Linked DNA regions of Homo sapiens: regions 1 and 2 are each reported to be linked to region 3. The links are microRNA targets in miRTarBase. Many come from high-throughput screens and were not tested one by one. Region 3 holds a microRNA gene; each other region holds the end of a gene's coding sequence.
Evidence for each region. The annotated mature microRNA hsa-miR-6794-5p reads CAGGGGGACUGGGGGUGAGC and lies in region 3 at 2,458-2,477, opposite strand. An mRNA with a match to its seed (bases 2 to 7 or 8) in the 3' UTR can be bound and repressed. Matches are read on the target gene's strand: a 7mer-m8 pairs with bases 2 to 8, a 7mer-A1 pairs with bases 2 to 7 and ends in A, and an 8mer does both.

Region 1: the mRNA of MRPL44 is a reported target of hsa-miR-6794-5p. The part of its 3' UTR that is shown has no 7-base or 8-base seed match.
Region 2: the mRNA of EMID1 is a reported target of hsa-miR-6794-5p. Seed matches in the 3' UTR shown: 7mer-m8 at 3,556-3,562.

What each region holds. Positions count from the first base shown.
Region 1 is chr2:223,966,281-223,970,482 of GRCh38, forward strand. It overlaps MRPL44 (mitochondrial ribosomal protein L44), which reads left to right. Exons shown (of 4, transcript NM_022915.5): 4 at 583-1,434. The coding sequence ends at 754. Among named protein-coding and RNA genes, the nearest start is that of MRPL44, 11 kb to the left of the region's middle.
Region 2 is chr22:29,258,709-29,262,876 of GRCh38, reverse strand. It overlaps EMID1 (EMI domain containing 1), which reads right to left. Exons shown (of 15, transcript NM_133455.4): 15 at 3,280-4,060. The coding sequence ends at 3,933. It overlaps RHBDD3 (rhomboid domain containing 3), which reads left to right. Exons shown (of 7, transcript NM_012265.3): 5 at 2,013-2,175; 6 at 2,264-2,551; 7 at 2,640-3,005. The coding sequence ends at 2,817. Among named protein-coding and RNA genes, the nearest start is that of RHBDD3, 7.2 kb to the left of the region's middle. RefSeq lists enhancers at 1,573-2,426, 2,427-3,281.
Region 3 is chr19:12,850,540-12,854,741 of GRCh38, reverse strand. MIR6794 (microRNA 6794) reads right to left here and starts at 2,482; the gene lies at 2,415-2,482. MAST1 (microtubule associated serine/threonine kinase 1) reads right to left here. Exons shown (of 26, transcript NM_014975.3): 8 at 2,707-2,808; 9 at 2,495-2,627; 10 at 2,347-2,414. RefSeq lists an enhancer at 2,053-2,553.

The DNA of each region.
Region 1 (4,202 bases), not on the chromosome of region 3:
TCTTAATTTGAAATATAGAGCTGGTTTCTGGTTTCTTATTTGTGTTAAAGTTTAAATGACAGACTCAAAAGGCATAATTTTTTCAACAGAATCTTTTCCCAAGTTATATCACACATTAAAAATAAAAATAGTCATAATTCCTGATAATATTTTTACTAGTTTCAGGTTTTTGTAAGGAGATATTTATTTTTCCCAAGTTATATCACACATTAAAAATAAAAATAGTCATAATTCCTGATAATATTTTTACTAGTTTCAGGTTTTTGTAGGGAGATATTTATTTACATATTCTTCCAATTCTCTCATCAACAATTGAAAACCTAGATACGACTTGCTTTTTTGACTTGACAGAGTTGTATATATTTCTAAGGAAACGTAAGTGTATCTTTGTCTAATTACCATATGTAATGAACTTGCAACAAATCTAGTTAAAATCCAAAAGATGATCTATCAGAGCTATTGTGTTACTTCTAATGGGTATTATTGAAATAGATGTAGAAGGCATAATTGCTTTATAACTGCTTTGTGTACTGTCTTACAATATTCCATGTAATTTAAGACTACTGTTTGTTCTCTTTCTAGTGATAAAAAGTTGATTGCAGAAGGACCTGGGGAAACAGTATTGGTTGCAGAAGAAGAGGCTGCTCGAGTGGCCCTTAGAAAACTTTATGGATTCACAGAAAATAGACGGCCGTGGAACTATTCCAAGCCCAAAGAAACCTTGAGAGCAGAAAAGAGCATCACTGCCAGCTAGCCGCCATGGATGCAGCAGCCTGAAACTTGAGAGCGAAAGTGAGATAAATGTCAAAGGTGTTTCAAGCCAGACATTTTCACAATTGTGAAGAAATAGATGTTTTGTTTCTGTTTTTTACTGTGTTCCCAAAATTAAATAAGTGTTAACCAAGTCACAGTGTTTTTGGTTTTGTTTTTCTGAAATCTTGGTTTGATCAAATCTTTTTTTTTTTCTCTTGAGATGGAGTCTTACTCTGTCGCCCAGGCTGGACTGCAGTGGTGCGATCTCGGCTCACTGCAACCTCCACCTCACAGGTTCAAGCGATTCTCGTGGCTCAGCCTCCCTAGTAGCTGGGATTACAGGCACACACCACCATACCTGGCTAATTTTTGTATTTTTGGTAGACATGGGGTTTCACCAAGTTGGCTAGGCTAGTCTTGAACTCCTGACCTCAGGTGATCCACCCGCCTTGGCCTCCCAAAGTGCTGGGATTACAGGTGTGAGCCACTATACCCGACCAGATCAAATCTTTTTTTGACATTTTTGCAAAAAAATTTTCCTAATGTTCTTGATTTAATTGTATAGAATTTGTATAATTAGGTGTATTTTATTTGCGTCTAGCTTTGAGGTATCATAATTTATGTATCTTATGTGAATTTTTTGCTGTAATACCAATAAAGTTTTTTTTCTCCACATGTTAACATTGCATTTTAATTTGATATACCCAGTAATGGCAGGAGGTTGATGAACTTCGCTTCTGTAATACAATTTTAACTAAAATAGTAATGTTAAAACTCTTTGGGAAATGCATAGTACAGATTATAAGTAGGCAGCTATTTACATGATCCCTAAATTCTAAGTTTAAAATTATGTATACTTCTAGTATGTTTCTTATTCAATTTCTATTATAAATAGCAGGAAAAGGCAAATTTATGCTTTTCAGAAATTGCCTTTTCTAAGAAGTTGAAACTCAAAAACAGCTTAAAATGTTAATGGTGAAGGGAAAATAAAGCCAGTATTAGTTCAATTTAGTATTCTAGTCATAATAATAGTATGTACCAAGCAGTGTTGTAAGTATTGGAACACATTTAATTCAGTAGAGAGGTTTTGGTTTTCTAATCCTTTGTGGTCAGTTCAATAATCCCCTAACTGCAAATTCCTTTTGATTTATCATTTGTTAAAAACTTTGGCAACAGTAATTTTTAGTTTGAGTCTTCCATTAGTCACTCCCAGGGGTTAACAAGAATAGCAGGACCTACGAGTTGAGAATAGAAAAGAGGTAAAATGTTAAAACCAACAGTACATTTGCCATGAATTTATTTATTTATTAGACAGAGTCTCGCTCTGTTGCCCAAGCTGGAGTGCAGTGGCGCGATCTCAGCTCACTGCAACTTTCGCCTCCTGAGTTCAAGCGATTCTCCTGCCTCAGCCTTCCGAGTAGCTGGGACTATAGGTGCGTGCTACCACACCCAGCTAATTTTTTTTGTATTTTAGTAGAGACGGGGTTTCACCATGTTGGCCAGGGCGGTCTCAATCTCCTGACCTCGTGATCCATCCACCTCGGCCTCCCAAAGTGCTGGGATTACAGGCGTGAGCCACTGTGCCCGGCCTGACATTTTTTTATAAAGAAAGATGAAGGAACTTTGAAATGCCTTTCCTGAGCCTGGCTAGGAAAGTGGAACTTGAGTTATCTTACAGGGTTTATAGCTCCCAAAGGTAAAGCAGAGACTTTTTGGAGGGGAAAATTTGAAAAATTAACTAGTTGACTGAATTGGCAGGTTAAAAGTGAGTTAAAGTTGACCCTCGAACAACGTGGGTTCGAATTGTGCAGATCAGTATATATATGCAGATTTTCTTCTGCTTCTGCCAACGTGAGACAGCAAGACCATCCCCCTTTTCCTCCTCCTCTTTAGCCTACTCAGCGTGAAGACAAGGATGAAGACCTTTTTGATCATCCGTGTCCACTTAATGAATAGTAAATATATTTTCTTTGATTTCTTTAATATTTTTAGCTTTGTTGTAAGAATAAGGTTTATAATCTATATAATAAAATATGTGTTAATTGATTATTTATTAATATATCATCAGTAAGGCTTCCAGTCAGCCATAGGTTATTAGGAGTTAAGTTTTTGGGAAGTTTAAAGTTAATATACAGATTTACTGCTACATGAGGGGTCAACATCCCTAATCCCTGCATTGTTCAAGGGTCAACTATATTTTACCTTTTTTTCAGAGTTAACTTCAACTCCTAGTAATGGAACACAAGGATAGAGGACCAAAACCAGTGGTAAAATGCCATTTATATGTGTTACTCACAAGTAAACATGATTTGATAAGCATCTCATTGGCACTGTAGGAGAAAAGAGATTATATGACAAACTTTTCTGGAAAGCAAAAGACATGTCTTCTGACCACTTATCCAGCATCTGTGAGATGGCAGAATCTAGCTGTGGTATGATTCTAATTTTTTTTAAGGTAAACATTAAGAAAGTCTAGGGAATTCATTTGCAAACCCAGTAATCCTTTTCTTCCCCCTCCCCGCCCCCCCCCCCCCCCCGCTAAATAGTGCTGATTGTGCGTTCCCAAATTTCTCCTGCTCAGGGGAGTTTGCAGGACCTTACCCTGCAAGCTTAGAGGGGAACTATCCTTTTAGGTTTTCAAACTTTTAAACTTTGAATGCTTCCAAATTTACATGTGGGACAAGTCTGGCTCTAGTTCATAAAACTACTTTGCAAGTAGAGATCCATATGCCTTATGTAGAATGTAATTTCAACATATTTCTAAGTAAAGCCTTCTTTGAACTTAAATTGTTGTACTTTTTAAAAGCACCCTCTAAAATAGGGTAGAAATGTAGAAAATTTAGAAAAATTGACATACATTTTCAATTGCATATCAAATATAGCTTGAAATTTGGAACCAGTCTCTGAGTAGCTATTTGTCCTATGAGCCTAACTGCATAAGTATGATATGTGGGTAGAAGGAACATGTGGGTACAAGAATGTCATCAAATGGTGCATGTGACCAAGAGCATTCAGTGACCATGTGAAGGACTAGCTCTTTGACTAATGCCTCGTCCATGTTGAGAAGACAGTCATAAGACTGGAAGCACTGACATTTGAATTTAGGTTCACACCAGAGGAAGACATTAGTCATTTACTTTGAAATTCTGACTTTTTCCACCTTTTCCCACTCTCCAGTTCCCTGTGCCCAAAGTATAATTGTACCAAAAAAATCCTCTAGCCAAAAATGTAACATTAATGTCTACAGACTTAATTACATAACCCCTATTCTTTTAAATTCATACTCTTTATTATATGCATATGTATAATGAGGAATATTTTTCTCAAAGTGTTGTATGTGGTCACAAGAAAGTAAACTGGAAACTAACACTAAACTCCAAGTAAGAATGGAACAAATTGGAGCTTTTTGTGTTCAGAGCTGTACTGATTTTGGCCACAAGATGGTGCTG
Region 2 (4,168 bases), not on the chromosome of region 3:
AAATTAGCCAGGCGTGGTGGCAGGCGCCTGTAGTCCCAGCTACTTGGGAGACTGAGACAGGAGAATTGCTTGAATCCGAGAGGCAGAGGCTGCAGTGAGCCAAGATAGCGCTGCTGCACTCCAGCCTGGGCGAGAGAGCGAGACTTCCTCTCAAAAAAAAAGAAAATTAAAAGCCTAAGTGAATGGAAAGATCTCATGTTCACGGATTGGAATACTTAATATTGTTAAAATGGTAATGCTACTCAGTTGATTTATAGATCCCACACAATTCTTATCAAAATCTCAGCTGTCTTTGTTGTTGTTGCAGAAATTAGCAAGCTGGTCCTAAAAATAATATGGAAATGTAAAGAACCCAGAATACCTCAGATAATCTTGAAAAAGAAAAGCAAACCTGGAAGACTTACACTTTTCAATTTCAAAACTTAAAACTACAAAAGTGGCCAGGTGCGGTGGCTCACACCTGTAATCCCAGCACTTTGAGAGGCCGAGGCAGACAGATCACTTGAGGTCAGGAGTTCAGGACCAGCGTGGCCAACATGGTGAAACCCCATCTCTACTAAAAATACAAAAATTAGCCAGGTGTGGTGGCACACGCCTGTAATCCCAGCTGCTCAGGAGGCTGAGGCAGGAGAATTGCTGGAACCCAGGAGAGAGGTTGCAGTGAGCTGAGATTGCACCACTGCCCTCCAGCCTGGGCGACAGAGCAAGACTCTCTCCAAAAAAAAAAAAAAAAAAAAGCCGTACAAAATTATAATAATCAAGATATTGTGGTACTGGCATCAGGATAGACATACAGATCAATGGACTAGAATTGACCATCTAGAAATAAACTGTTAGATTTACTGTATAGTCAATTTATTTTGACAAGAGTGCCAAGTCGATTCAATGAGGAAAAGAATATTCTTTTTAATAAATGGTGCTAGAGGCTGGGTGCAGTGGCTCACGCCTGTAATCCTAGCACTTTGGGAGGCTGAGGTGGGCCGATTTCTTGAGGCCAGGAGTTTGAGACCAGCCTAGCCAACATGGTGAAACCCTGTACTAAGAATACAAAATAATTAGCCAGGTGTGATGGCACGTGCCTGTAATCCCATCTATTCGGGAAGCTGAGGCAGGAGAATTGCTTGAACCTCGGAGTTGGAGGTTGCAGTGAGCCGAGATTTCACCACTGCATATCAGCCTGGGTGACAGAGTGAGACTCTGTCTCAAAAATAAATAAATAAATAAGTCGTGCTAGAGCACTCTTTATTGGTGTTCTGCTTCTGAGATTTTTTTTTTAATTTTTAGAGACAGGGTCTCATTCTGTCACCCAAGCTGGAGTGTGGCGACGCCATCATAGCTCACTACAGCCTCAAACTCCTGGGCTCAAGCGATCCTCTTGCCTCAGCCACTTGAGTAGCTGAGATTACAGGTGTGCACTGCCACGTCCAGCTAATTTTAAAAATTTTTTGTAGAGACGGGGTCTATGTTGCCCAGGCTGGTCTTGAACTCCTGGCCTCAAGTGATCCTCCCGTCTCAGCCTCCCCAAGTGCTGGGATTATACAGCTGTGAGCCACTGCGTCCAGCCCTAAGATGATTCATACCTATCGGGGAAAACAGTGCCACTGGAGAGAACAGGCTGGCCTCTGCACTCTGGATTGGTGACAGGAGTTATCCAGGCCTGTCTGAAGGCAATAGCAGGTGTGTCCATGGGACTTCTTCCAGGACGGGTGGGTCTTGAGTTACAGACCTGAAAAGGTGCATAGGGTTCTGGGAACAGAGTGGGTCACGGGTGAGCCCAGGCCTTGGGGTGAGGCATACCTGGCTCTGTTTGGCTGAGTAGCTTCAGGCAGATCCCTTTTCCTTTCTGAGCCTCTGCTGCTGACCAGGGTGACGCTATTCCATGCTGGTCCACAGTGAGGAGACGGGAGGGAATGGTGGCCAGCACACTTGGCATGGGGCCTGGCCTGTGGCGTGGGCCCACCCCTGGCTGCTTTTGGTTTTCCTTGACCGGCCGCCCTGCCCCGGGCAGACAGATGCAGCTGGGGCCTTCCGGTGGCTGGAACCCTCAGAGCGACGGCTGCAGGTGCTGCAGGAGGGCGTCTTGTGCAGGACCTTGGCGGGGTGCTGGCCCCTGAGGCTCCTTGCCACCCCGGGTAGCCTGGCGGAGCTGCCTGTCACCCATCCTGCCGGAGTGAGGTGAGGGTGATGGGGGGGATGCCAGTCCAGGTGGTGGGCACTGTGGCAGGGCTGCCAGTCAGGCCCTCTTCTCTTCCCACTCCTCCAGGCCTCCCATCCCTGGACCGCCTTATGTGGCCTCCCCTGACCTCTGGTCCCACTGGGAAGACTCAGCCCTGCCCCCACCAAGCCTGAGGCCTGTGCAGCCCACCTGGGAGGGCTCCTCAGAGGCAGGCCTGGACTGGGCTGGGGCCAGCTTCTCCCCAGGGACTCCGATGTGGGCGGCCTTGGATGAGCAGATGCTGCAGGAGGGCATCCAGGCCTCGCTTCTTGACGGGCCAGCCCAGGAACCCCAGAGCGCACCATGGCTGTCCAAGTCCTCTGTCTCCTCTCTGCGGTAAGGTGGGGTGGGCAGAGGTGGGGTCCCCTGGTATAGGGGCCGGGGTGGCCCTGACACTCCCCACTTCTCCCCCCACCCCCAACAGGCTGCAGCAGCTGGAGCGCATGGGCTTCCCTACGGAGCAGGCGGTGGTGGCACTGGCAGCCACAGGCCGTGTGGAGGGTGCCGTGTCACTGTTGGTTGGAGGACAAGTGGGCACTGAGACCCTGGTGACCCATGGAAAGGGTGGGCCTGCCCACTCCGAGGGTCCTGGGCCTCCCTAGCCCAGGCAGAGAGTGGGGCACAGGCAGGCCCTTGGGTGCTAAGGGCTGGGCTGCATGTGGGTAGCCCGAGCTCCTACTCTGTCTAAAGAGGGCCACAGTGGGGAGCAGGGGCACCTCTGGAGGCAGGAGAGGCCCCCCAGCATGCTGCCCTAGTACGTGTTTAGAATAAAAACCAGTTTGTTTTTCAACCTGGACCTCCTTGGAGGCAGCAGTTGTGTTTGACTCTTCTGTGTTGGCATCAGGGGGATGAATGAATGAGTGAGCACCAAATGAATGACCAGTTGTGGGAGAGCTGTTCCCTGATGTCCAGAGACACAGGCTTCCTGGCCCTGCACCTTGCAGCCTATACCTCCAGGAGGCTCTGTCCTCCAGCACAGAGCATTCTCCACCGCCCATTTCTAGCCCTCTCCGTCGTAGCCTCATTCCCAGCTGCCCCCATCTAAGCACACACTGAGACCAAGCTGCGGGGAATCAGGTAGGGGCCTTTATTGGCCAGCACACATCTACCTCCTGGCATCTGTCACAAGCATTTGCAGGAGTAGGCGGCCCCTTCCTCTCCATGTCCCCATCCCCAACCTGAGATGCGGGAGGGCCTGGGGGCTCAGAGGGAAGAACTGAGGCAAGAAGCCCCCGGTGATCCAGTCAGAGGATTGGGCAGCCTGACCTCGGGGTGGGGAGCCCAGCACTGGACAACAAGGAGGGAGGGGCACAGGAGGGCTCCCCGAGGTTTGGTCGGGGAGGGGGAGGAAGACTGCCCCCTGCCCTGTCATCTCTGCATGTGCCGAGCCCCAGCTCCTGACTCCCTCAGTGCCTTTGGGCCTGGATGCTCAGACAGCAGATGAGACGAAGCCTTGTACCTCTATCCCTCCTTGAAGGCCTGCCTCCCCCCACTTCACAGAGGGAAACTGAGGCCCAAGCCTCTCCTCTCAGCCCTTGCTCAGCCTCAGACATGTGCATGGTGCCAGGACTGAGACCTGCTTACCCCTAAGGCCTAGATGGCAGAAGGGACCCTGAGGACATTAATAAATATGGACGGGCGGTCCCTGGAGGCAGCTGGCCGAGTCCAGGTAGGAGGGGAAGCCTGGCCTGGTCTGCCTCAGGGGCCGCCACCACCCTCAGCCTCTCTCGTCCCGGCTCCTGGGGGCCACGATCCGGTAGTTGGTTGCATGTCCGCCCCTCTTGCCCCGAAGGAGGCTGGGGGTGCCTGTGCCGGCAGGGCCCGCCCCAGACCCCAGCTCTGGTTCTGCCGGAGGGAAGAAGGAGAGAGGCCACATTAGAGGGGTTCATGTGAGGTGCCCACCTCCCCTTGGCCCTCTAGGGGGTGGCAGAACCGGGCACGCTCTGCCAGGTA
Region 3 (4,202 bases):
ATAGAGCTACCATATGACCAAGAAATTCCACCTCTAGACGTATATCCTAAATAACTCAAAGCAGTTGTCCAGCCAAATATTTGTACACCCACATTCATAAGAGCACTATTTACAACAGATGAAAGATGGACAACCCAATGTTCACCAGTGGATGAATGCATCTACCATTCAATGGAATATTACTCGGCTATAAAAATGAATGAAGCAGTGACACAAGCTACAACATGGATAAACCTCAGAAACGTTATGTTAAGTGAAATAAGCCAGTCATAAGAGGCCACAGAGCATACGATCCCATTTATAGGAAATATCCAGAAAAAGGCCAGGCATGTGGCTCACGCCTGTAATCGCAGCACTTTGGGAGGCCAAGGCAGGCAGATCACCTGAGGTCAGGAGTTCGAGACCAGCCTGACCAACATGGTGAAACCCTGTCTTTACTAAAAATACAAAATTAGCCAGGTGTGGTGGCGCATGCCTATAATCCCAGCTACTCAGGAGGCTGAGGGAGGAGAATTGCTTGAACCTGGGAGGCGGAGGTTGCAGTGAGCCGAGATCACGCCATTGCACTCCAGCCTGGGCAACAAGAGTGAAATTCTGTCTCAAAAAAAAAAAAAAAAAGAAATATCCAGAAAAAGCAATTCCACAGAGAGAGAAAATAGATTAGTGGTTGCCAGGGACTGCAGGGAGGGAGGAATGAGGAGGGAGTGTGTAATGGGTGTGAGGTTTCCCTTTGGGGGTGATAAAAAAGTTCTGCAACTACATAGATCTAATGGCTGTACAGCATGGTGAATTACTAAATGCTGCAGAATTGTTTATTTATTACTATTAATCATTATTATTATTATTATTATTATTATTATTATTATTATTTTGAGACAGAGTCTCGCTCTGTTGCCCAGGCTGGAGTGCAGTGGTGGGATCTTGGCTCACACCAACCTCCACCTCCCGGGTTCAAGCAATTCTCCTGCCTCAGCCTTCCAAGTAGCTGGGATTACAGGCATGTGCCACCACGCCCAACTAATTTTTTTGTATTTTTAGTGGAAATGGGGTTTCACCATGTTGGCCAGGCTGGTTTCGAATTCCTGACCTCAAGTGATCCACCCATCTTGGCCTCCCAAAGTACTAGGATTACATGCATAAGCCATTGCACCTGGCCTATTCTTTATTATTTTTAATTTCATTTTTCAAGACAGGGTCTCACCCTGTTGCCCAGGCTGGAGTGCAGTGGTGTGATCATGGCTTACTGAAGCCTTGACTTCCTGGGCTCATAGGATCCTCCCACCTCAGCCTCCCGAGTAGCTGGGACTACAGGGGTGCACCACCACGCCCAGCTGATTTTTTATGCTGCCCAGGCTGGTCTCAAATGCCTTAGCACAAACAATCCTCCTGCCTTGGCCTCCCAAAGTGCTGGGATTACAGGCCTAAGCCACTGCACCCGGCCCCGAATTGTTCATTTTAAAATGGTTAAAAAGGCCGGGCGCGGTGGCTCATGCCTGTAATCCCAGCACTTTGGGAGGCCGAGATGGGCAGATCAACTGAGATTGGGAGTTTGCAACCAGCCTGACCAACATGGAGAAATTTTAGTCTCTACTAAAAATACAAAATTAGCCGGGTGTGGTGTTACATGCCTGTAATCCCAGCTACTCGGGAGGCTGAGGCAGGAGAATTGCTTGAACCCAGGAGATGGAGGTTGTGGTGAGCTGAGATAGTGCCATTGCACTCCAGCCTGGGCAACAAGAGCAAAACTCCATCTCAAAAAATAAATAAATAAATAAATAAAAATAAAATAAAATGGTTAAAAAAGTAAATTAAATTTTATGTTTCATGGATTTTAACATGACAAAGAGGTCACAGGGGAAGAGCAATTATTTTATTTTATTTTATTTTATTTTTTGAGACAGTTTCGCTCTTGTTGCCCAGGCTGGAGTGCAGTGGTGTAATCTCAGTTCACAGCAATCTCTGCCTCCTGGATTCAAGTGATTCTTCTGCCTCAGCCTCACAAGTAGCTGGGATTAGAGGCATGTGCCACCAGGCTTGGCTAATTTTTGCATTTTTTTTTTTTTTAAGTAGAAACGGGGTTTCTCCATGTTGGTTAGGCTGGTCTCGAACTCCCGACCTCAGGTGATCTGCCCACCTTGGCCTCCCAAAGTGCTGGGATTACAGGCATGAGCCAGCATGCCAGGCTCTGGAAGAGCTATTATTAATCCCATTTTATGGATGGGAAAACTGAGGCTCAGAGTGTAGGACCAAGAGATCCACAAAGCCTGAGGGCAAAGAAGCCGGAGATGAGCCCCACCCTGCCCTCCCAGGAACCAGGGTACTGACCGCTTAGCCACCCAGCCTTACCTCAGAGAGATCGTCTTGCTCAGGGGTGTTGGAACCACCACTGTCCTGTTCCTCCAGATGCACCACATCTAGGGAGGGACTGAGAGTGAGCACGAGCTGGGTTCTGGGCCTGCTCACCCCCAGTCCCCCTGCGCCCACCAGCCGGCACCTGGAAAGGGGTCACGGGTGAGGCCCAGCTGGCGGATGATGTAGCGGGGGATGTCCGTCTTCACAAGGTGGCCCTCCTTGGCGTGTCCTTCGGCCGCCTCCAGCAGGTGGTAGAACTCCTCGGGGTTGAATTCCTGAGGCAGGGCAGGAGTGGGCTCACCACAGGCTCCCAGGGTCTACCAACCCACCCCTACCCATGCCCAGCCCCCTCACCAGGCACTCCAGCAGCCTCGCAGGGCGTGAGATGATAATAAGCAACTTCTTCACCAGCTGAGTAACGAAGGCCACCTCCAAGCTCTCAGAGCGTTCATAGGCCTGTGGCAGGGGACACAGAGGGACAGGGCTCATAGGCACTCTGCCTCAGCCCGGCCCCTCTCTCAGCCCCTCAGAGTACATACTGCTGCTACTGTCCCATCTTACAGGTGAGGAGACTGAAGCCCAAGCCACACAGTAAAAATAATGAGGCTGGGCACGGTGGCTCATGCCTGTAATCCCAGCACTTTGGGAGGCTGAGGTGGGTGGATCACTTGAGGTCAAAAGTTTGAAACCAGCCTGGCCAACATGGTGAAACCCCATCTCCACTAAAAACGCAAAATGAGCCAGGCGTGGTGGCAGGTGCCTGTAATCCCAGCTACTTGGGAGGCTGAAGCAGGAGAATCCCTTGAACCTGGGAGGCAGAAGTTGCAGTGAGCCAAGATCACACCACTGCACTCCAGCCTGGGTGACACAGCGAGACTCTGTCTCAAAACAAAAGCAATGACAAACAAACAAACAAACAACAAAACCATAGCGAGACCCTGTCTCTACAAATAATAAAATTAGCCAGGTGTGGTAGTGTGTGCCTGTAGTCCTAGCTACCTGGGAGGCTGAAGTGGGAGAATTACTTGAGCCCAGGGGGCTAAGGCTGCAGTGAGCTGATTATACCACTGCACTCCTGCCTGGGTGACAGAGAGAGAGACCCTGTCTCAAAAAAAAAAAAAGAAAAAAAGAAAAGAAAAAGAGGCCGGGCACAGTGGCTCACGCCTGTAATCCCAGCATTTTGGGAGGCAGAGGAGGGTGAATTACTTGAGGTCAGGGGTTTGAGACCAGCCTGCCCAACATGGCAAAACCCCATCTCTACTGGAAGTACAAAAATTAGCTGGGTATAGTGCCACACACTTGTAATGCCAGCTACTTGGGAGGCTGAGGCAAGAGAATCGCTTGAACCAGGGAGGTGGAGGTTGCAGTGAGCCGAGATCACATCACTACACTCCAGCCTGGGTAGCAGAGTGAGACTGTCTCAAAAAAAAAAAAAAAGAAAAGAAAAAACTAATATCTTATTGCAATACTTGAAAAGCCTAAAATTAATGCCAAAAATCTATCATAAGCCAAAATATCAAAATTTAAGCCAGATGTGGTGGTACATGCCTATAATCCCAGCTACTCAGGAGGCTGAGGCAGGAGGATTGCTTGAGCCCAGGAGTTCAAGACCACCCTGGGCAACATAGAGAGTCCTCCATCTCAAATGAAAAAGAAAAAGAAAAAGAAAATTAAATAAAGACAGAATCCAACAGGCTGTGCCTAGCCATATTGTAACTTGAGCCAAAAAAAAGTATGCACCAACCTATATGTGTTTTAATGTGTCTTTGAAAATGTCTAATGGTTTCAATGAAAATAGTATTATTGATGAGTTTGCTTTCATTAAAACCAGGACAGTAAAATTATAACAC